Linked DNA regions of Homo sapiens: all the other regions are linked to region 3. The links come from fine-mapping of genetic effects on gene expression. A gene starts in region 3. Each other region holds a variant in brackets. All regions are shown on one strand. Distances are from middle to middle. Region 1 has its middle 110 kb from the start of LINC01304. Region 2 overlaps ALLC (allantoicase). Region 3 holds the start of DCDC2C (doublecortin domain containing 2C).

Evidence for each region.
Region 1: its variant is fine-mapped to the expression of DCDC2C in subcutaneous fat (FUSION, PIP 0.95).
Region 2: its variant is fine-mapped to the expression of DCDC2C in tibial nerve (GTEx, PIP above 0.99).

The regions. Positions count from the first base shown.
Region 1 is chr2:3,861,840-3,870,022 of GRCh38, reverse strand. No RefSeq gene overlaps it. Among named protein-coding and RNA genes, the nearest start is that of LINC01304, 110 kb to the left of the region's middle. RefSeq lists a silencer at 294-502. The variant T/C (reference allele first, on the strand shown) is at 4,568.
Region 2 is chr2:3,677,250-3,685,432 of GRCh38, reverse strand. ALLC (allantoicase) reads right to left here. Exons shown (of 12, transcript NM_018436.4): 4 at 6,878-6,965; 5 at 5,439-5,564; 6 at 3,720-3,799; 7 at 2,359-2,491. Among named protein-coding and RNA genes, the nearest start is that of DCDC2C, 22 kb to the left of the region's middle. The variant G/A (reference allele first, on the strand shown) is at 4,213.
Region 3 is chr2:3,700,393-3,708,575 of GRCh38, reverse strand. It overlaps DCDC2C (doublecortin domain containing 2C), which reads right to left and starts at 5,001. Exons shown (of 11, transcript NM_001287444.2): 1 at 4,538-5,001; 2 at 1-27. The coding sequence starts at 4,824. ALLC (allantoicase) reads right to left here. Exons shown (of 12, transcript NM_018436.4): 11 at 6,940-7,064; 12 at 5,905-6,213. The coding sequence ends at 6,013. LOC105373393 (a long non-coding RNA gene) reads left to right here and starts at 5,076. Exons shown (of 3, transcript XR_922732.1): 1 at 5,076-5,117; 2 at 5,462-5,768; 3 at 5,937-6,016.

The DNA of each region.
Region 1 (8,183 bases), 160 kb before region 3:
TGTTCTCATTCTTATAACTACTTTCAAACCTGGAACAGCATCTACTCATTCAAATCCAACTCTCAGTAATATGGTTACAATTTTGGGTGATATTCTGGCATTTTTTAACTCACAAGTTTGAGATAATGGGCCATTCCTCAATATTCAGTTACTCAGCTAAGTAGCCACAATATTAAACATAGAAGAACTTCAATAGTTGAGATTGTGAAGCCAAATTACTGATTTTATAAAATTCAGATTTTTAAAGTTTATGTTTGAGTCTTGCTATTTTTTTTTTTCACTCTTGTTGCCCAGGCTGGAGTGCAATGGTGCAATCTCAGCTCACTGCAACCTCTGCCTCCCAGGTTCAAGCGATTCTCCTGCCTCGGCCTCCCAAGTAGCTGGGATTACAGGCATGTGCCACCACGCCCTTCTAATTTTGTATTTTTTTTTAGTAGAGACAGGGTTTCTCCATATTAGTCAGGCTGTTCTTGAACTCCCAACCACAGGGGATCTGCCTGCCTTGGCCTCCCAAAGTGCTGGGATTACAGGTATGAGCCACCACACCTGGCCTAGTCTTGCTATCTTAATATGTAAAATGTTTTGAAAGTACTTACACTTTTAAATAAGTATATCTCACTTTAGTCACTAGGTGTTTTACATATTAAAAATGTGTAAATTGAGCCACCTTCAAATGTTAATGGCCTTCTTTTCTGAAATACCCTATAGAAAAAAGAATGTTTATTCCATATCGCTTTTTCATCACCTTCCTTTTATGAACTTTGCTCACAGCAAATACAGCAGATGTGATCTCAAAGGAAAAATACATCTGAGCAGGTTTGCATTCCTGCTGCTCTCTCCCCAGCACCAACACAGAACAGGCTCCAAGAAATGGCTGATCAGGTCAGGCCATGCAGCAGAGCCCCCACCCCACAGGCCTGGCTCTGCCACCCTAGGACGAGGCCTGCAGAAAAGGTTACCTGGAGGACAGAGGCAGGTGGGTAGGGGCCAAGCGTCAGATCTGAGAGAAATGTCTGCCCCAGAGTCCAAAGCACTTGGTGCCAAGCTGTCCTCTCCTAAGTAGGATCCACCTTTCAGAATTCAGGGGTCCTGGTAAACCTGAACACAGGGTGGGGGTTTGTGCACAGGAGGGGCCAAAGTGAAGTCACATTCCCTGACTGGGACAGGCACGGTGAGCCCTGGTATCCGGGCACTCCCAGTCCATCAACACACACTGAAGGGGAAAGCAGGCTGTCGTGCGTTTGGAGCCATGACTTTCATTTTCTACATGTAGCCACTGTTAGGTTGATCCTAAAGCTACCACTTTACATATTTTAAACTCAGCCAAAGGGACTTTCTGTACTGGGTGAACTGTCACCTAGCTGGATGTGTAAGCAGACTGTGACCTACTCTTGTGCCCATCACCGAGTTTTGGCAAATCCTAGGCAGCTGACTGTTCAAACCGTGTTCCAATAAGACAAACCCTGAGCTGTAACCAATCCAGCTGTTTCTGACCTCACTTCCTTTTTCACCTCACTGTCCTTTTTCTGTCCATAAATCTTCCATCATGAGGCAGGCCGGAGACCCTCTGAACCTATCCTGGTTTCGAGGGCTGCCAGATTCACAAATCATTCATGGCTGGGTTTTCCTTTTAACACCATGCTAGAATTCAAAAGGATTTTTTCAAATCACACTGTAGGAATCCGTCTTATTTCCTCAACACTCACAGAGTTTCTGCAATTCTGTTTTTGGCCCTAAACGGCCGTCTGGCACAGCTGCATGGCAGAGAACAGGGATGGGCCAGGCCAGCACTTTCCAGCTGGGACCTCAGCGGGATCCAGGTCAAGCCCCTGTCCCAGGATGAACGCTGCGTGCCCAACACTCCTGGTCCCTTGCCCAGCCATCCTTTGAGAGAACAGGTGTGAGACAGGAATGTTGGGTGGTCATAGGCGACACAGGAAGATATCAAGCAGCGATCTTTCACAGCAGCAAGAAATGAGAGCTGTTAAATCAGCTACCAGGACAAGGGTGAGCCTGGGCTGATGGGGCCCTAACAAACAGGAAGGGGCTAAGCGGCTGAAATGGGCTGAGTCCAACATGGCATTTGGTTTGACCCATGCCCTACCCCAACCTAATTATATGCTCATTAACATCCTAAATCACACACCCTCCGGCACCAAGAGAGATCGGAGCATGGCCATATTTAGTATGGAAATGAGTGGCACCTGAATTCTAAGAAATCTCCACCTTTTTCCTAGAAGACCTCATGATTATTCCACTCCCTCATTAAAAGATCCCATAAAACTAGAAACCCAATCTCTCTAGTGCACGACTCACTCTCCCTAGCCAGCCTGCACTTCACTCTCAAGTGTGTGCTTCACTTTGCAATAAAAGCTTCTTGCCTTTGGCCTCATTCTGACTCGCCCCTGAATTCTTTCTCATGACAGTGTCAAGAACGTAGACACTGGCTGGGGCTAGGGTCTCACTGGCATGTGGGTACCCTCCTGAGCCCTCTGGAAACAGAGCCAGAGCCCTCATGATGCCAGAATAGGACTGAGCACTGCCTCTTGCGCTGAGGACGCATTGTTCATCCCTGTGCAATGTCTTCTTCTAAGGAAAAAGCAAGGCTCCCTAGATCCCACCTTGGTCTCTAATCTCCCAATGGGTTCTTCCTGCCCACTGCATAGACAAAAGCAATTCACTGGGACTGCACCATTGCAGTAGAGAAAGAATTGAATTGACAGGAGGCTGGCCCACGTGGGAGAACTGAGTTAACACTCAAATCAGTCTCCCTGAAGGCTCAGAGCTTGGAATTTTTATGGACAATTTGGTGGGCAGGGGGCTAAGGGATGGGTGCTGCCGAATGATTGGGGATGAAATCATCAGGGTGTGAAGAACAGTCCACACCCCCATGCGCTCATTCCACCTCTGGATGGGGCTACAGGATCAGCTGAGTCATAAATCACAAGTTTAGGGGGAATCAGCCTGAAAGCTCCAAACACCAATCTTAGGTTCTATGATAGTAATGTCATCTATAAGAGCAACTGGGAAAGTCACAATTCTTGTGACCTCTGGCCACATGACCCCTGAGCAGTAAGGGATTATGGAAACTATGCCTACATCTTAGCAGAGTTCAGGCCCCTCTCATAATCCTTACCTTATGGCCTTTTATTGGTTTTACAAAGGTGATTTAGATTTGGGAAGGGCTATTATTATCCTTGCTTTAAGGTTAAACTAGAAACTAAATTCCTCCCAAAGTTAGTTTGGCCTACACCCAGGAATGACCAAGGACAGCTTAGAGGTCAGAAGCAAGATGGAGTCAACCATGTCAGATTTCTCTTGCTGTCATAATTTTGCAAAGGCGGTTTCATATCTAGCATATATATCGAGGGTTGTTTAGTACAACAAGGCCTTTAGCTAAGGTAGACTTACTAATCTGTTGAAGAATCTTAGGGAAAAGACAGCCTCTTTTTCAGATGAGTAAACTGAGGCTCGGAGACTCTAAGCTGGTTGATGAAGTTCATGCAGCCAGGCATAGAGCCGGACCTGAAACCACGTCCTCTGACTCCAGGTCACTCCTTCCCACCCTGCTGCACTACAGCTAGATCAAGAGTGGAGTGTCCACAGCCTTCCCCTTGCTGAGGCCCCAAACTCATCTTCTCCCCACAGGTACAGCCATGAACAATGACACTCAAGGACTTCAGAAAGACCAACCCAAGGCCTCTGTCCTACTTGAATTGGGGGACAAGGGGCTGTCCAAAGGCCAGAACTGATGTCATTGGATGATCTGTTAGTTTCAGGTGCCCATGGCACTCTGACCTCATGCAAATCATAAACACAAGCAAAACCTCTGCATATTCAATTATGTCTCTAGCGGGACTAATGTAGCCTCTGTTAGCACAAAAACTCAGTTCATTTCATAAGACACGAGCAGCTCAGTACAGTGCCTCACTGAACGTTAGAAATGCAGGCAACAACTGAAGGGTAAAAGAGAGGCGAGAGGAAGAGACAAACAGACAAAAATGACATGCTTCATACCACGATTGGCGTTTTGTCAGAATGTGAATTGTTTCAAAATCTTTTCCATTCATACAAGTGGACATGTACACAGAGCAGCTCAGCCTAGGCTTACATTAAATTAGACTTCTATCTTGGTCTTTCTGATCTAACATTTCTAAACATCCAGAATGATTAACTATTTTTATTTTGTGGTGAGGTTCTAGAATATAAGCAACGAAGACAAAAGGCTGGTTTACCCTCGCAAAGGAAACCTTTCTGGCATTTTGCTCACTGCAATGCAATGTAGCATTCATTGAAATATTACATGCAGCTTGCCAGAGCAGCCCTGAATCAGAGCTAGCAATGCTTCAATGAGCCAGGGAGAGTCATAATTCCAAATTCCATTTAGGGAATCACTGGGAGCTGTTCTGTTATTTTCTCTGGAAACCAAATATTCTTGCCCTGTCTCTCTAGAGCTGCCTGCAATTACCTCACTAAGGCGAAAAAGGCTGAACTGGAACAGGAGGACTGACCCTCTCTTGTTATTCAGTCCTGGTGAAGGTCTATACAGCAAGCCCTTTCTGAGAAA[T/C]TTCTCAAGAGATGTTAGCCAGCCAACCAGAGGGCAGTGCCTCCTCCTCCCTTCGACAATCCATGCCAGCCGTGGCCAAACGGCACAGATTAAAACTCAGAATAGCAATTTGTGGTGCTAAGCCAGATGGAGATGAAAAGGTCATTTAAAATTAGAGTTAACTCACATTCTTGCGAGAGATGGGGGTCAGGGCCGGCCCTGCAGAGAACAAGCACCAGGAAAATAACCGTATCCCAGCGCACAGAGAGCCTGAGTCCCAGGGGTCAGCAGAGCATTGGAGGCTGCTCTGCTGTGTAGGCCCAGGGAAGCAGGACCCACACCTCTACTGTTTATCCTCCAAACAAAGGCAGCGCACCTGAGTGCCCTGAAGGTGCGAGCTCTGCACCTGCCACGTCAGAGACTGGAGCCAGGACCCGAGCTGCACGGGGTTCAGGCCGCTCACCTGCCACACACTCCCTTGGAGAGCCTGAAGCTGAGCTCCTGCTGAGGCTTGTTCAGGTTATTAATTAGCATTGCATTAGCAACGGCTGTGCATGGGGGCTGAGGGCAATTCTGTAATATTCTGTAATATAAGCAATTCATATGACGCTTCAATCTGTCTATGTAGGTCTAAATTCACCATGAGGGAATTATAACACGGATTCTAGGTGTAGCATTCATCAAGTGTGATAATGATCTTTTATAACCAAAACTAGATACACATTAAACACTAGCATTAGGAAATGCATTCATTTTTATAAAGGTATTTAATTAAATTTTGTAAAAATTAAATTTTAAATTTTACTTTATTGGAATAATTTTGATTTTTGAATACTCATTAATTAAATTTTGCCTTTTAATTTTAATAACTTTAATTATTTTAAAAGAAAAATAGTACTATTGAAAAATATGAAAAATAACCTTAATTTTTTAAACTTAATTTATCTAAATTTATATTTTATTGGTGAAATGTTCAAATGTCCTATTATGAATGTAACTACATTTTCCTTTCTAATCCTTTAGATTAGGGATGGGTTGGCAAGCTTTCCCTGCAAAGGGCTTCACATCTGAAGAATGCATGAAAGTTGGTATTTTGCTAGAAATAGAAATTATAAAAATGCAGCTTAAAGAAAAAATGGAAATAGTAACAGAAAATATGCAGAGAGCAGCCTGTTTAGATTATTTAAAACTGAAAATAGTAAATATGAACAGACTTTTGTCAAGCATGACCCACACAAAATTTGAGAACAGGGCATTACAAGTTTATTTTGTGAAAATTTAGCTATTGATCAAAAGAGTAAATATGAGCAAGAAAATTATTCTAATCAAATCCACAATTTGAATGATTTCATATTTCCAACTTCAGTCATAAAACATATACTTTTACATATATTTTTATTTGGTTTTTATGAACAAATACTGATTATGGACAAATGTTAAGAATTTTTGTTGTAGTCATTAACAGGTTGGTTTATAACTTTTAAATGTTAAAAAATATATAGCTTGTGAGTCTCCAACTGCACCCCTATCCCAGGCCCTGCAATGCTGATGGCAGGCCTGTCATAAATTGCAGCAGAGGCTGTTTTCTGGATGAACATGGATAAAATCTGCACACTGTCATCAGATTGTTCTTCCTTAAAGACGGTTTTTGATCATAGAAATCCCAAACTCAGAAGGTTTCTATATATCCCCATTGTCTCTAGTTCAAATTCCTCAGACTGACAAGCAACAATGTCCAGTTTCTCCAGAACCTACTTTTCCTTCCTTACTTCTTGACATTCTCTACCCAAATTTTCTACTCTAGTAGACTGGTCTTCCCCAGGGCCTCCTGCCCAGGCATTGCACAGCCACGCTCATCTGCAATGGCTATTCCCGCCCACTCCACCCATTTCAACTCTCAGACCAAGGCTGCCTCCTTGATGACACCTTCCCAACTGCCCATGCATATGGGAGACTTCTCTCAATCCTGTGGCACGTGTTCTCTGTACCCCTCAGAGGTAGGTTGCTCTGTAGTTATGCTACCCATGAATAATGTCTTACTTGCCCAAGCAGATTATTTTCTTAGATTATAACCTGACATTTTTTTTGAGGCACTGATACATGCCAAGTACTGTAAGGAACTTACATTCACTATGAAAGCAAATTCACTGAACCGAATTGACAACTGTCATGGTTAAGTTTAGGTGTCAACTTGACTGGATTAAGGGATACCCAGATAGCTGGTAAAGCCGTGGTCCCCAACATTTTTGGCACAAGGCACCAGTGTGTGGAAGATAATTTTTCCATGGACCAACTGGGGGGTTAGTTTCGGGATTAAACTGTTCCAACTCAGATGGTCAGGCATTCGTTAAATTCTCATAAGGAGCATGCAACCCAGACCCCTCACATGCGCAGTTCACAACAGGATTCGTGCTCCTATGAGAATCGAATGCTGCTGCCGATGTGACAGGCAGCAGAGCTCAGAGGGGAATGCCCACTTGCCTGCTGCTCACCTGCTACTGTGCCTAACTGGCCATGGACCAGTTCCCAGTTCCTACCTGGCCAGGGACCAGTACCACTCTGTGGCCGAAGGGATGAGGACCCCTGCAGCAAAGCATTATTTCTGGATGTGTCTGTGAAGGTGTGTCCAGTGGATATTAGTGCATGAGTCTGAATGGACTAGGTGAGGAAGATCCCCTTCACCCAGTATGGGAGGGCACCATGCAGTCAACTGAGGCCCACATAGAACAAAAAGGCAGAGGAAAGAGAATGTGCTCACTTCTCTCACTTTTGGAGCTGAGACACTCTTCTTCTCCTGCCCTTGGACATCAGAACTCCACGCTCTTCAGCATTTGAACTCAGGAACTGACACCAGTGGCCTCCTCAGGTCTTCAACCTTGGACTGAGATTACACCATAGATTCTCCTGGTTCCAAGGCCTTCAGACCTGGACTGAGCGACACTACCAGCTTCCCTGGTTCTCCAGCTGGCAGAAGGCCTATCGTGGGACTTCTCAGCCTCTGTAATCCTGTGAGCCAATCCCCCTAATAAAGCTCATATATAGATATCTATATCTATACATATCTATAGATATACACACACATATATATATACACATCTATATATATATATAGAGAGAGAGAGAGAGATACATGCCAAGTACTGTATCTATATATATTCCTATATAAACCTATATAGGTTGCATATATAAACCTATATATATGCAACCTATATATACGTATGTTTATATATATACACTTATATTCATATATACATGTGTATATGTGTGTTTGTATATATATTTATATATATGTTTTATTTCTCTGAAAAACCCTAATACGACAACTGGTATCCACCACAATGCTACAAGAACCAAATTTTTTCCACTCTCTTATGTGTGTGTGTGTGTGTGTGTGTGTATATATATATATATATATAGAGAGAGAGAGAGAGAGAGAGAGAGACATGCATATATATAAACCTATATATATGCAACCTATATATATATACGTATGTTTATATATACATTTATATTCATATGTATGTGTGTGTATATGTGTATATATATTTATATATGTGTTTTATTTCTCTGAAAAACCCTAATACGACAACTGGTATCCACCACAATGCTACAAGAACCAAATTTTTTCCACTCTCTT
Region 2 (8,183 bases), 23 kb after region 3:
TCTCGATCCTGCTGCCATGTAAGACATGCCTTGCTTCGCCTTCTCTTTCTGCCATGATTGTAAGTTTCCTGAGGCCTCCCCAGTCATGTAGAACTGTGAGTTAATTAAACCTCTTTTGTTTGTAAGTTACCCAGTCTCAGGTAGTATCTTTATAGCAACGTGAGAGCAGAGTAATACCGCTTTTATTTAAAAAGACGGGGGAATAGTGGATGCTAGCGAGGATGTGGAGAAAGTGAAGCCCATGTACACTATTGGTGAGAATGTAAATTAGTACACTCACTATGGAAAACTATGAAAACTCCTCAAAAAACTAAAAATAGAACAACAATAGATTCATCCAGCAATCTCACTACTGTGTATATATCCAAAAGAAAGTAAATCAATATATTGAAGAGATATCTGCACTTCCAAGTTTACTGTGACACTGTTTACAATGTCACAGCCAAAATATGAAATCAAAGTAAGTGCCCATTAACAGAGGAATAGATTTTAAAAGTGGTATATATACACAATGGATTGGGGATGGATACCTCATTCTCCATGATGTGATTATTATTCATTGCATGCCTGTGTTAAAACATTTCATGTACCCCATAAATATATATATACCTACTATGTGCCCATAATTGAAAATATTTTAAAAAAGAAAATATGGTATATATACATATACCATGGAATACTATGCAGCCATAAAAAGGAATGAAATAATGGCATTCACAGCAACCTGGATGGAGTTGGAGACCATTATTCTAAATGAAGTAGTTCAGGAATGGAAAAGCAAACATCATATGTTCTCAGTTATAAGTGGGAGCTAAGCTATTAGGATGCAAAGACATAAGAATGATACAATGTGGGGAAGGGTGGGGGGTGAGGGATAACAGGCTACACATTGGATACAGTGTACACTGCTCTGGTGATGGGTGCACCAAAATCTCAGAAATCACCACTAAAGAACTTATCCATGTAACCAAACACCACCTGTTCCCCCAAAAACCTGTTGAAATTTAAGACAAGTGAATAGAGATCTGAAGAGAAATTTTTCCAAATAAAACATACAAATGGCCAATAAACATATGAAAAGATGTTCCTCCTCATTAGTCATCAGGGAAATGCACATCAAAACCACAATGAGACACCACCTCACATCCACTAGGATGACTATAAACAAAAAGTAAGACAGAGAGTGCTGGGAAAGGCAGGGAGAAATCAGCACTCCTTTACGTGGCTGTTAAGAATGTAAAATAGTGCAGCACTTTCGGAAAAGCCTAGTAATTCTTCAAACAGTTAAACACAGAGTTATCATATGACCCAGAAAGTCCAGTCTTAGGCATACACTCAACAAAAGAAAGCATATATCCACACAAAATCTTGTACACAAATGTTTACAGCAGCATTGTTCAAAATAGCCAGCAGATGGAAACAAGTGTCTGTCAACTAATGAACGGGTAAACAAAATGTGGTAGTGGTTGAGTATCCCTTATCTGAAATGCTTGAGACCAGAAGTGTTTGGATTTCAGTTTTTTTAAATATTTGCATTATACTTACTGGTAGAGTGTCCCAAATCCAAAATCTGAAATATTCCAGTGAGCATTTCCTTTGAGCATCATGTCAGCACTCAAAAAGTTTTGGATTTTGGAACATTTCAAATTTTGGGGCTTTCAGATTTGAGATGCTCAACCTATATTAGCCTTACACAAAAAGAAAGAAAGTGTTAATACATGTTACAACATGGATGAATCTTGAAAACATTATACTAAGTGGAAAAAGTCAGACACAAAAGACCAATATTATATAATTCCTACTTATATGAAATGTCCAAAATAGTCAAAACTATCAAGACAAAAAGCAAATTAGTGGTTGCTTTGGGATAGGGAAGATGAGGGATGATAGCTAAAGGATATGGGGTTTCTTTCTGAGATGATAAAAATGTTCTAAAGGTATGGTGATGGTTGCACGTGTCTATGCATATGCTATACATCATTGATTGTACACTTCAAATGGGTGAACTGCATGTTAATTATATCACAATAAAGCTATTAAAAAATAAAATGAGTCATTTGTACATACCACTTCAGCTGCTAATATAACATACTTGTGAAATCTAGTTAGGATCTATCTAACCTAATACAACTTAGTTCCACCACATCCTAATTTACTTGATAATTTTTCAATAACCACCTATTGATGTGTGGATTAAAACAAGAATTTTCTAGAGCATAAAAAGGAGAAATTACAATCCTGAAATGCTAGAGAGATCAATTACCAAGAAGGAAAGAGCAAGTCATTTTATATTTTATAAACATGTCAACATAAAATAAAGAAGCCATGGAACTGGTGATAAGTCCATGTCACGATTACCTGGGAAAATGTTGAGTCTGATATGAGTCCATCTCTGCTGGGAATTGACAAGAAAATAGTTGTGGCCGGAAGCAGGGTTTCCTGGCTTAAGCTCAGTCATGGGAACCAAGTAACTCCAGTCGTCGGATTTTAGCTAGCAATAAATATAGAAATGTCAGCAATTGCTCTTGAAAACAATAAATTCTGTCATCCTATTGCCTCTGTGGCACTTAAGGTGTGGAGATACTTTGGAATAAAAATTAATGATGGATGCCGGGCACGGTGGCTCACGCCTGTAATCCCAGCACCTTGGGAGGCCGAGGCGGGCGGATCACAAGGTCAGGAGATCGAGACCATCCTGGCTAACACGGTGAAACCCCGTCTGTACTAGAAATACAAAAAATTAGCCGGGCGTGGTGGCGGGCGCCTGTAGTCCCAGCTACTCGGGAGGCTGAGGCAGGAGAATGGCGTGAACCTGGGAGGCGGAGCTTGCAGTGAGCCGAGATCGCGCCCCTGCACTCCAGCCTGGGCCACAGAGCGAGACTCCGTCCCAAAAAATAAACAAACAAATAAATAAATAATGATGGATACCTAATGAAACACTTTAATAAAAATAGTACATATCAAGCCCCATGTTTAATAAAAAACAGAATAAAGGCCTGTTTTGTTTTCACTGATCAAAACAGCCAGTGGGTGATGGTGGCAGATGCTTGCAAATGAAGGACAAGATCTCAGACCCCTCCAAATGTCTTCACCTTGAGGTGTGGTGAGGTGAACATTCAAATAAAAACCAAGGCTACTGCCATGCTCCATGACCTCTGGGGAAATCTGCTGGCCTGAGCCTTGCAACCATTTTCTCTAGGTTAGCACTTCTCAAACTAACGGCCCTGTTTACTGTTCCTGTTATTTACTTTCCTGTCTGTTATGGATCAACATTTCTGTAAAAAACAATACAAACTATTACTAAATAAACATTAAAAAAACAAGAATGTACCAAAACACAAGCCCTATTTATTTTTTTCCCCCGTTTCTTTTATTAAATTCTCCAAACACAAACGTTACTTCAAGTTACATCAAGTTGGTATAAAAAGTGTTTAAACGCTTACTATCAGTTTCTGTATGTGTGCTTATCGGGGCCAGCAGCCATTTGCAGATGGGTGCTGGTGGAACCCTTTGAGAAGCCTTTGGGCCATGATGCTCACTCTTCCCAGGTTGATGAACCACTGAGACGTTTGCAAGGCCACAGTGGGTAAGCAAATGATGTGGGGAGCATCAGGGCTGGGCGTCCCAAAGAATCGCCTTGCACAGCCAGGTGTGCAGAGCAGTTTCCCTACTCTCCTAATAATTGGTGACAAGACCCAATTCATTTGGGGGAGATGTACCTCAGCAATGGCTTCAAACTCCTCAGGAGTGGCTGCAGCTCCTGTCCTGGTTCCTCTTTCTGGGATTTCTGGTAGTTTATCTGTAGTTGGAATGACCATTCAGGATTAAGATTAGGGTTCAAAATCAAAGGGAATCTACTCTCTTGGTGGTTTGTATGGTAATTCTCGCTTTGCAAATAACACTAAAGATATTTCGAAGTATCAAATGATCAAAGTAATAGACACACTTGTTGAAGTTCCTCAATATTTAATATATTAACAGTCATTTCAAAAAATAGTACAAGATGTTTGATACTACATTTGCTTGTCAAACAGTAAATGTCATCTCCAAGTTAGCTCAAACTTCAACAAGTTTATCACATCGCTAGAGTTTTCAAAGTTGGACTATTACAAGGTCAATTCCAGAAACACCACCTCTCCCAGTGGCATCCTTAGAATTGATACTGGGGCAATTCAGAAATAGAAGCACTCATGGGCAGTTGAGGGGCTTGCC[G/A]AAACAATCTTACTCGTTTGTCACTGGTCATTTCCGCTTTTAGAGTAGCATCTCTTGTAGCATCATTTCCTGTTCAGGTGCCCCAGCCATCTTCAGGGAGCAGGGCCCGTTCGTGTCCACAGAGCCTCATGCAGCGCTGTGCACATAGCATGTTCAGTGTAAACTTGCCAACCCACATTGACTTATCTTCCCTAAGTACATGTATAAACACACACATAATTGTATATTTTTTTTAATTAATGCTAAAGTCAACATCAGATGGTAACAAAGGAATAAAAATACAGAAAGTCTGTGGAGACAAAGTGACTCCATCTTGGATGCGAATCTGCCATGTCAATGTCTGATTAGCCTCAATCCTGTGAACACGTCCTGCTTCCAACTTGATTTACTGTCCTTAGTCCAGAACATGTCAACCTTGATATTATCGCACAAATCAGAGGCTGTGACGCACACCGCCCTCTTCCCTGTTCTGGAGGCTGCCTTCAGTTGTCCCGCTGGAGCACGCAGACCCTTTCCCTACAGCATGTGAGCCCTGAGTCCGGGCAGTAACAGTGCAGAGATTTACCCATCTCGCTGCTGCCCAAGGCCACGCTTCTGTCCGTAAGTTCCCCCAATAAAATACCCGTTACCAACAGACTGGATTTGTCAGCCTCTTTCTTTGGTTTCTTGGCTTCTTCAGCACCTGAGGTCTGCTCTGTGTATATGGCCCTTTCACAGAATACGTCTCATTTATAGAGCCTGCAGGATTCATAGGTCCAGCATTCCAAGATGCAGATAGGAACCCTTGCCTAAAATGCCATAGCAGCTCCCCCATCACACACACTGGGACAGCCCAAAGCAGGGCTGGTGCTGCTCACCCCACAGCTGTCCCAGACCTGGGTCCACATCACCCGGGTCATCTGAGGCACAAACCACTCCCTCCCGCCCACCAGCAACCTGCTCACCCACGTTCCAGGGATGATGGCCTGCCTCTGCGTGAAGCTGAAGGACCGTGGGAATGATAAAATCTATATCTGGCTGTTAACACTATTAAGCCACAAATCAAAAACCACAGAGCGCTCTACTAGGAGTCCTGGTCCTACAGCCCCGTTACAGTAAAGTAGCCTTAGTCAAGCGCCTGAAGCTGTCTGGGTGGTAGGGAAAGTGAGCAGTTGTGGGGCTGTGGCTGGCCAGAGGAGCCATGTGACCCATAATTCTCATTTTGGGGACAGTGGTTCCTAACGCACCTTCTTCCAAGTTTGCTGCTTGAATGGACACTCGAGGAGCGTAATCTCCCGTGAAGTAAGAAACGTCCACGTCGAAGCCCCGGATGACTCCTTGGATCCCCAGCCTGAGGACACACCAGTCGTGACCTGCGCAACACAGAGGACAAGAGCAGTCTCGTTAGGGCCAACACAGCAGATGCTGCATGCGAGGCAGTGCACCCCACATGCACCTGACCCACAGCAGGGGCCATTCCGTCCATCACAGAAAAAACTGTTCAGGGCGGTTCTTAGCTAATATGACTGTAGGATCTCTCATAACCTGGCCACATGTGACCACCATTCCCCAACGAAAATCCTCAGTTCTAGCCAGAAGAGAAAATGCACAGGCTGGGATCCAGGAAGACCTGATTCTGGTTCCAAATGGATCATTTCCTATGACTGTCCTTGGCAAATTATTTACCTCTTACAGTAGAGAATCTCATTTTCTCAACTGTAAATTAGGGATGCCGTTAGCTTCCATAAAGCTTAGACTGAGTGTGCGATGTAGAAAGCACCTCACCAAGCTCAGCAGGTAGTAAGCAGAGCTGGTTCTCCTGCAGACACTGTGTTCATTGTCCTCTCAAGCTCAGGAACTGACACAGCACCCTCCAGCCTCCAGCCCCACCACTGGTCAGACACCTGCCTGCATCTACCAAAGCCTTCAGAGTCTTGAAGTCAAGTCTGCCACTATTGAGTTCTTGGTTATTTACTGCCAGATATTAACTCACCTTAAAATGTCCAGATTTGTTAGAAACTAATACTGCTTCAAGTACTGTAGAAAGTTAGAAAACTAGAAATATCAAATATTTCTGTAATACTTGAGATAGTGGCAAGTAAAAATCCAATTATCAACCTAATGCCTGGATTTGTTTGCTTTTCTTCAACTTCAGAAGGTATATTTTGATTGAGACTGAGTAATAGCAATGAATAAAAATTGCATAAAATCGTAAAAGACAGCGGGTACAGTGTTGAGGACAGACCCTGGCCCAGTCCCCAGCTTATCTTGCTAGCAGTGTGCCCTGGGCTGAGTCCAGGAATCTGTTTCCATGGCGGTTAAACGGGGATAAAGAGACCTACTCCAGAGGACTGTAGTAAGGACCCAGAAGATGCACGCTGCCTAATGCCTGCCACATTGCTCAGTGAGAATCCACTCTTTTTTCCATCCGCAGACCTCACCAGGGTTTTCATTTTCCCGACAACGTGCTTCTCACCCTTTGTGCCTGGTGGGACGTCAGTGACCCGGGCTCACGCTGCCCCTTCCTGACTTAGAGCCTGATGTTCAGATAAGGACATCCAAGATTACAGAGCATTCCAGGGCCCCATGTTAAAGCTGACCCAAAACGGACACTGGCTTTGCCACAGCCTGCGTTTTTAACTTTGCAGTGTCAGCTGCACTTCGATGAACGAACCGTTGTTATTACCTGGAATCCTTTTCCTCCTGGTCTCCCAGCCATCCATCCATTTCCCAAACTCCGTATATTCATGCTCTTTGAAGCACGGGCTGTCACTCTAGGGCAAAGACCACAACAAGGTGATCATTAACATTCATGTGATCTCCTGGCTTCCAGCAAGTCCACTTCTGTCCCACAGTGCCAGAGGAACGGTGCAAACCGGGGTCTAGGGGAGCCTCTGCCACCACCTTCATGCCCAGCTAGCCCCTTCCAGATTGAGAGATGCCTCCGCTTTTATCATCTTCAGAGAAAGAAATGTGACTTCTTTGTGGGCCTCAGCACACAGAATTGACCACTGATAGCAGCAGGTACAACCACATCACCAGGCACTCTGTGGGCCGCACAAATGCAATTCCCAACAGCAACCTACATGGGTATTAAAGTGAGAGAGGCTGGTCAGATTTCCAAGCAGGCCAGGTAGACTATTCAATCAGGAATTCATCCAAAGTCATAGGAAGAGTAGGCTGGACGCTCAGGGTCCAGGTGAAACCACACAGCACACTCTGCAACCCCCTGAGGAAATGCATGGTCTCTGATGCCCCACACAGCCTCCTTAGACAGCTGAGCACACTTCTTCATCTTCCAGAATGAGGAGGATACACGCATCCTCGCAGGAGTGTCATGAAGTTGGAATAGCCGACATGAAAGACCCTCAAATAGCGTGGATGCTCAGAAATCGTTATGCTGGCCCAGCATGGGGATACTTTCCCTGTTTCCATCAAGTCGTGCAAGGAGGATCTTACGTTACTGCTTAGGGAATCTCCCCAGGCAGGAGCAGAGGAAGGGACTAGGGGTAGCAGGACCCAGGGCGGCAGGGATGCTCTGATGGAAGCTGATGCATGAGACGCCAACCAGGGATCCCGCCAGACTCCCTGGTGTGACAACCTGCCCAGCCTCCCAGGCAGGGGACCCGTGGCCAACGGTACCCACCTTCCTGTGCCTCAGTGCTCCTCCTCTGTCAAAGGCAAACAGCCATCGTGCTATTGACCGCCTCTGGCTGTTGTCAACCTTAAATGTGCCTGGCACATAGTAAGTGCCCAGTATTTAGCATTATACATGAAAGTTGATGGTATTTTGAATGTTATTACAATCAAATCACATCTTAAAGACAGCACACACTCCAGCCTTTCCATTACTCATCAGGAATTGCAAAACTCTGCTCTGAACCCAGAAGGAGAGAAGGAGGTACACCTCCCACTTAAACCCCAGACCTCCAAGGCCCCAAACTTTTTGGTGTTTAGTTTTGGGGGTAGGTTGATTGTTTCAGGTGTGTTGC
Region 3 (8,183 bases):
GGTTTTCGGGGAACTATATGAATATAACTGCAAAAGAAGAAAGAAGAAAACATCATTAGAAGGAAGATATTTACATAGAAAGTTCCAGACTCCTTAGAAACGAGTCCTTTTCCGGCTTAATAGATACAACCCCACAGCAATTTGGAACTAGGATCTAAAATTTTCTCGGTGTTAGAATCCACATCAGAATACAATAGCAATGCTGCTGTAGGACAGTTTTCACACTGGGTACCACTGGCACTGCCCCTTGAAAGTGTCTCTTAAGTGACATTGCTTTCCCTCACGTAATTTTATTAAAGAGAAACCTGAGAAATCATCTAATTCAACAGCATTCTTTAACCAGGTCGCTGAAGGCCCAGAACTGCGAGCTCATCAATGTTCCCATGACAGGCTAAGGTCGGAACAAAAACCCAGACTCTCCTCCAGCTCCTCTGCACCCCCACCGCTCCCTCCTGCTCACAGAAATTCAGCACTGTTCTCCTTTTGCCAAAACTGCAAACTGGAAAAGAGTCACCAGCATAAAATGTGTCTGAGCCCTACTAACACAATTTTTTTTACTGTTGGGGACTTTTGAGACTTCCATATTCCTCAAAAATAAAATGTTTTCATGGGTAATAAATAATACCTTCAAATTTATATCTGATACTAAGGTTTCTTCCTGATTAAAAAAATATGTATTTGAGATTGTTATTGTTTTTGATAGTTTCAGCAATATTCAGAGAAGGGTCAACTTAGACTGGTAAATAGAAGGGGAAGAAATAACTAAGTGTTCAATAAAGAGTCACGGATGCAGATCCCCACAGAAACTGGTCAAGTAAATGATGGCACTCGCCAAGGGTGGTCTCAGGGACTGGTGGGGGCTGTGGCTGGTGGGACCATCCTTTCCCTTCTGAGGCGGACAGGGCCTCACAGGTCCAGATAGCGGAGATGCACGCAGCTACAACCAAGTCCTCTGAACAATCAAATCCTCTATTTTTTCCAAGGGAGACCAAAAGTTCATATTATTACATGAGTTCTCCCAATTATAAAATGTTGCAGCCAACTCAAATCTTTGAAAATTGTATGAACTGAACAAAACATGGCTGCTGGCTGAGTTCAGCCTGAGCCTCTCCACTTGCTTAGAGGCCCTTGTATGCACTCTTCACTAGCTTAGTCTAGTCTTCCTGTTTTCCAAATAAATATTTTAAATTTGTTCTAAATTCCCAAATTCCATATTTGTTTATGAACATTAATCTCCCAAATGAGACATCTGATTTTCATTACATGGAACCAAAAAATAAAATTTAACACAGAAAAAAAGCATAAAAAGATCCTACAAAAACACAAAATACTATTTATTATTTCAATGTTGCACTCCCAAGAACTTATAAAAACAGAAAGAAAGGACAAATAGTTCCTCAGACAGCCCATGACCTGAGGTCTTTAACTCAGGCACATAGAGAAGCCTGCTGGGTGGGCTTGGCTTGCTCTGAGGTGGGCGGGGAGTAGGTCTGTGAAGCAGTGATGGGACCATGAGGTGCAAGCTCCCTCCCGGCTACTTCCAGAGAACAAAGGAAGGGAAGAAACCACCCATGAGAATCCGTGCCAGGCACCTTACCCTACTGCATTCATTCCATTCTCCCAACCGTACCGCAGAGTGGATGTGAAGCCAGCCTGCTTTATGGATGAGGAAACCAAGTCTTGGAGAGGTTATTTCACTTGCTGAACGTTACTCAGGTAGACAAAGCCAGGATTAAATTCCACCAGTCTCTGGCTCTGAGGCCAACATTCCTGTCATCTATCACAACTTCCTCTCCACCCACTTTTCCTCTTTCTCCTGTCATCTGCGGCTAGTTCCCAGGTACAAATGGGTGGCCAGGGAGATGAGAGGAAAAGGCTGGGTTGAGGAAGAACGAGGAGACTTTGATTCAAATAGCATGTTCACATTCATGTCTCAGCAACAAGCTCTAAAGTAAACAGGGTAATATTCCTAAGCATTCAAATTCTTTGGGGTCCCTCCCCTAAACACATACACACACACACGCACACACATGCGTGCACACATACACAACACCCTGATTTAGATTTTGTTGTAAATGTGGCTTTCTCCACAAAAGAAATATTAATTCTAGGCTTTATATGACACGTCATTGTTTTGAAAAGTAATTATTATCTTATAATATTTTGTTTTATAAAGAAAAAAATTATGTCCTTTGGGTCTCAAATTATTTTCTTCCAGAAAATGCAGGAAATGTCTGAGTAATGGCTGGATATTGGATAGATTTGTTGGTGTTTGTCTTTTTAATGCACCATCTTGAAACCACTATTATGAGGGGAGCTCCCGGATCACTAATATATCAACAGGCTTCACTTCAAAGTTCATTTGCTGGTGACACAATTAGAATATTATTTTCCAGTGAAAATTAATTGAACTGCTCAATGGCTTAGCAATTACAGAATATAAATTTCCAAGAGCTAGTTTACTTTACTAATACCAGTGAAAATCCAGCCACATTTTTCAGAGCTTTGTTCACCAAAGTCTGAATTCCAATTTCAGACTCACTGACCTAAAAAAAACTGAAGAAAAGGAACCCCACGTGCTCTCTATGTTGAACTTCACATGCAGACATGGCTCATCTATTTTACAGCAGTGAAGATGCATGGATAATAGATAATGCAAAATAACCCAGGCTGTCTGCCACACGGACCCCAACTCCCCTCCCTCTGCAGTGGGTGACATTTCTTTCCTCCCAAAAAGTAAAATAAACAGTAAGAGCACTGGGAAGAAAAACATCTCAATTTTTTCTCAATATTTTTGCTACATGTCCAAAACATTTTAAATAAACCATGAGACTCGAGACTCTCTCTACAAAACTGGAGGTACAACACGGTCTGGTTAGAAAATATCCAGCCCCACAGCAAGGGGAAAGAGTAACATCTCCCAGGCACACTCCAGGCTTCGTGGCAGGTGCTTGATACGTTTCCTTCCTCATTTGCTAACATGTAAAACACAGGCCAATTTTACAAGAAAATGTCTTGGGATAAAATTAAATACTTTTCATTATATATGTATCGAAAGGGACTTTAAAGGCAGTTTTTGTAGAGATATATTCTTTAATTGTAAATCAGCACTGAACACTGGATCCTGGGTAGGATGTCAGTTCTAGATATTCACACCATCTGACTAGCTTGGAAAAAATAATCACAAATCACATGGCTATAAAGGAATATAATTTTGTCCATGAATTCTAATACATAACAGGATTATCATAGTAATAAATTTCAATCTGAAATATGCTAATCCAGATTCTACCTCTTAGCAACTGTGATGCCTGTGACTTACGACTTTTCTTCAGAAACAACTGAATGGTAAATTCACATCTTTGCAAATGCCACTAAGAATTTGGAACCATACACCAGCCCTCATACTAAATCCTACTACTTTTTCAAAAAACAACAAACAAAACTCAAGCTGCTGATTTAATTCAGAGCATTTTTGAACGGAGAGCATTTGAAAGAAGAAAATGGAAATTCTCTCTGGGGAATCTCACTTTTATCTCAGCCCTGAAGAATGTCCCCACACAAAGCTATACAAAAGGAGTAGTTCACAGTCAAAAAATAAGTAAACCTACAAGGAAACAGAGAATCAGGAGAGAAAAGCAGCTGAGATCACAGAAAGCAGACACAGGCTGCAATAATGGGATTACAGACACAAACCGTGGGAGGGCAATAGTTTAATTAAAGGCAAGCTTGAAAATGCACGCAGGACCAAGTGATGGACACAGAGTGAGAGGGGTCACCCTGAGCGATTTCAAATGGGAACTGCCCAACCCGCCCCATTCCCAGGCCCTGCCCCCCACGCCCCTCCCCCCCACGCCCCTCCCCCCTCCCCCTCCCCTACACTCCTCCCCACGCCCCCCACGCCCCTCTCCACACCCCTCCCCCATGCCCCTCTCCACACCCCTCCCCCACGCCCCTCTCCACACCCCTCCCCCACGCCCCCCACGCCCCTCTCCACACCCCTCCCCCATGCCCTCCTCCACACCCGTTTCTGCCCCATGCCCCTCCCCCACGCCCCTCCCCCCTCCCCCTCCCCTACACTCCTCCCCACGCCCCCCACGCCCCTCTCCACACCCCTCCCCCATGCCCCTCTCCACACCCCTCCCCCACGCCCCTCTCCACACCCCTCCCCCACGCCCCCCACGCCCCTCTCCACACCCCTCCCCCACGCCCTCCTCCACACCCCTGTTTCTGCCCCACGCCCCTCCCCCACGCCCTCCTGGCCGTCTCTGGGGCGGTCCTGAATCGCTGCCGGCCAGGGCCCGCCCTGCCCCATAGGAAGGGACCCTGGGGGCGGGGCTGCCTCGGCTTCGCCCCCAGGAAACCACGTGGCCTGGGGCGGCCCGACGCCGGCTGCGCTGGATCCACGCCGAAAGATGGGCGCCCGAGCCGGGAGGGAAGCCTGGGGAGGACACCTGGGGGGCACGGCCCTGACCACGCTCAGACCCAAGAGGGCGGGGAGGGGCGCAGGGCGCGTGGGGGGCGCGGGCGCACTTACTCGAGCTCCTTGAAGCGCTCGCGGCCCGCCGCCACGTACTTGCCGCCCGCCTGCAGCGCGTCCAGCCCCAGCACCCGGTGCCCACGCGTGGGCGTGAAGAGGCGGCGCACGCCGAACGGGACGTCCACCTGCTCCGTGAGCTGCTCCAGCAGCGCCTCGAAGGTGGCCGCGCGGCGCCGCGACAGCACGAACTTCTTGCCCACGTAGAACGGGTCCCCGTTGCGGTACACCACGATGGTCTTGGCGGGCGTGGTGTCCACCGGCGCGGAGGGCCCGCGGGTTCCCATAGCCGCGCCCCGCTCCTCGCTCGCCGGGGCCGAGAGGCTGCGGCAGCGCGGGCAGCGACGCCTGCAGAGCCGCGCCCAGGCCCGGGCACCGCCGACGGGAGGTCCGCTCCAGCCGCTGGCGCAGGACGGGGACGGGACGGGGACGGGACGGGGGCTGGACGGGGACGGGACGGGGCTGCCAGGCGGGCGGAGGCTGCGTGTTGACGCGACCCTGGGCGATTGTGACCGCCTGGCCGCCAGGGCGAGGGGCTCGGGGCCGGGGCAGGAGACGGGGCGACGGGGAACCCGGGCAGGTGAGCAGGCGGCACGGGGCAGGGACAGGTGATTGGGTAATGGGGAGCCCAAGCAGGTGAGGCGCGGCACAGGGCGGAGACAGGTGAGGGGGCAACGGGGAGCCCGGGCAGGTGAGGGGCGTGGCGGCAGAGCTCAGGAAAAGAGGAGGAGGAGGCGGCTAGCATGATTGTGCTGAGCGCCCCGGGACGCCCACCGTGCCTCCTCCCCCTACACTCGCCGCCTTCCTCTGTAGAAGCGGTAGAGAGGAGGGTTAGGGAGGGACCAGGACCATCTTGACAATCAACATTGGATGGGTGCTGGGATCTGCTTCACATTTTTTGAGCCTCTGTTTCTTTGATCTTAGGTTGAATTTGACCGGTTCAGCCCCAGTGTCTTCCAGGACTCCTGGCCCAGAGTGGGGAATTTGAGCTTTTCCACCAGAGGAGGAGGTGTGCAGAGCCACTGGGAGGCCGTGAGGAACCGCGCTATAGCCGCTGGTGTGCGGTGTCAGGCGCGTGCCATTCAGAACGCATCCTCATTGGGGAATGATTCAAAGGGAGAGGGGGTCTTTGGAAGAATCGTTCCTACTCTGGGTAAAGATAGGCCAGTCCCCTTGAGTGATTCTAGACAGTCAGTAGGCTACATGTTACGGCTGGAAGTCCACACCGAAGGTACAGATATTGATATTATGAGTATTAATATCTTATAATGTTCAAAAAAAGTAGTTCCGTAGAGACCACCAGTCACAGCCATAGCCAGTATGTAAGCTACTAAATGCCTCATAGCAACATTAAATACAGAGATCAATTTGTGAGACGACCACTTTATTAAATCACCAGGTGTTCAAAACATTTGAAAAGAAGACTATGACTGGGAAATTACTGCTGTGTGTCCGACACCGGGGCTTTGTGTGTGTTAAGGGTTTGCTTTGAAGCTCACCGAGAACTTCAACATGGGCTTCTCCCGGGGCCTCAGGAGGCAGATGGAGCTGGGGAAGCCCCGGAGCCGAAGGCGGCTCACTCCCCCGTCGGGGACGATGGTGAGCCTGGCGTGAGTGATGACATCTTGGAGCTCTAGGGTCAGGCTATCGAACAGATGACTTTGGTTGGGAGACAACTGAAAAGCAAGCAGATGCAGAGGTCCTAGTCTGTTAACAGGACATGTGTGGCCGAATGAGCCCACGGCCCGGGCAAACCTTTGGCTTAGACTTAACCGAAGGGGCTTTAAAATAAGTTATTAATTGATGATAATTGGGCTTTCCATGAAAATCTGCTAGTAGGGATAGGATGCCCAAATAATACATGAATAAGCAGGCCCCAATAAACAATTGATGGGCAACCTAAATGCCCATCAGTTGTTTCTAATAGTTGATTATACATAAGCAAATTGATAAGAAAATGAAGGAAGAGACCATCTTGGTCTCTCCCGGAGATTATTTCCTATCTTTACATGGGAGCAGCTCTCACCTCTAGCCTGACCCTCTTTCTAAATCAAAGAAGACACTTGTGGAATATCTCAGAGCATCCATCCTGCAGGTGGACACGCCATTAGAGCTTTAAATGTGCTAGTCGCCCCTTCTACAAAGTTAAACATGATGCAGAGACATGTTTCCACGTATGTATTCTGAACATTTAACAATTTTGTTCTAATAAAATTTGGAAATACAAAAGTGGAGAGAAATAGAGCCTTTCTTCTTAAAGTTTGCAGATAGGGGTTTTAAACCTCATTCGTTTTACCATTAAACTGAGCAGAAACTTTGGAGCGTATCCTAATCCTTCAAAAGAGAATCTTAGGGAAATAGCACAGTCTGAGTGCTGGATCCGAATAACATGCCACACGAACCTTGGTCACTGGAAGCAGTGGTTTCCACTTGTGGGCCGGGAGAATCCACTTTTGCCTGATCACGGCTTCTTCTTCCTGAGTTGTCAGGATGCACCCATCCACTTTACAGCTGTCAGGAGCATTGCCTGTTGGAGCAAAACACAGCGTGATTTTCTGCCCGCATTTGCACTCAGTTTGGCGTATAGGATATCATGCTTTTTTAATAAGATCAAAAACCCAGCAAAAAACAAGTCCCTGCTCTTCCTGAGCAAAAGCAAAGGTATGAAGTATGTGAGGGAAGGAACAAACCGGTTTGTGAGGCTCAGATTGTCTCATGAAATAGACATTTCTTTTTCAGAGGACTCAGAAGCAGTCCGCCATATGTGAAGGGGCTGGCGCATTTCAATTTGCATGTATAGCGTTCTCACTTTGAAATCTGAATGTATTTGATAAGCTTCCTCAATTGCAGATTTAATTACTTGCAGACTGCTATGTGGCTCATCTGAAATTATTATGAAGCTGGAAAATATTTTCCTATGACATATTTTTTAACATGACAATCAAAAGGAAATACTGAGTTTTATGTTAGCTAGCGCTGGGCACCAGCCACACACGTGTATTTGGGGATTTCTGAGTCATCTTCAGGTGAGAGTATATGGTCCTGAGATTCTTCTCTCTTTGGAATATCATAGGAATCGTGGGCTCAGTGGGGTTAGAGGACCTTGAGGGAAAGGTCCCACTCTCTTTGAGAAGAGAGAACTTCTACTGGAGCTCTTTAGGATCAACAGAGGAGGAGCTGCTAATCAAGAACCCTGGAAAAGAGGAGACTGTGGCTCACATGCCCCCTTTGTGGCCCATCTCTTAAAACGGTAGTCTCCAGGGTGGGCGAACATGCCCCTGGGGTGCATACGGACACAAAGGATGCAAGTAGAGAACATTAGAGCTGCTATTTCTATTTGTCTGATATACATACATATGTATGTGTATATTAAGCTTTGTGTATTTGATATAACCTACTATATTATTGCTATAAGTGGATACTGCCATGCTCCCTCATTTCCATTACAGTCATCATATTGTATGTACCAGAGGTATCCTGAGTGTTTGACAGTGGTAGATTCATGACCTGTTGCAGTTTTGGGTGTCTGCTTAAGTGGATTTACTGTTTGTTATCTAGTTTTAACTAAAGCATCCCTCACAAAAATAAGTAAGTTATTTTAAACCATTCATGCAGAGAACTGTGGATTAAAGATACCATAAAAAAT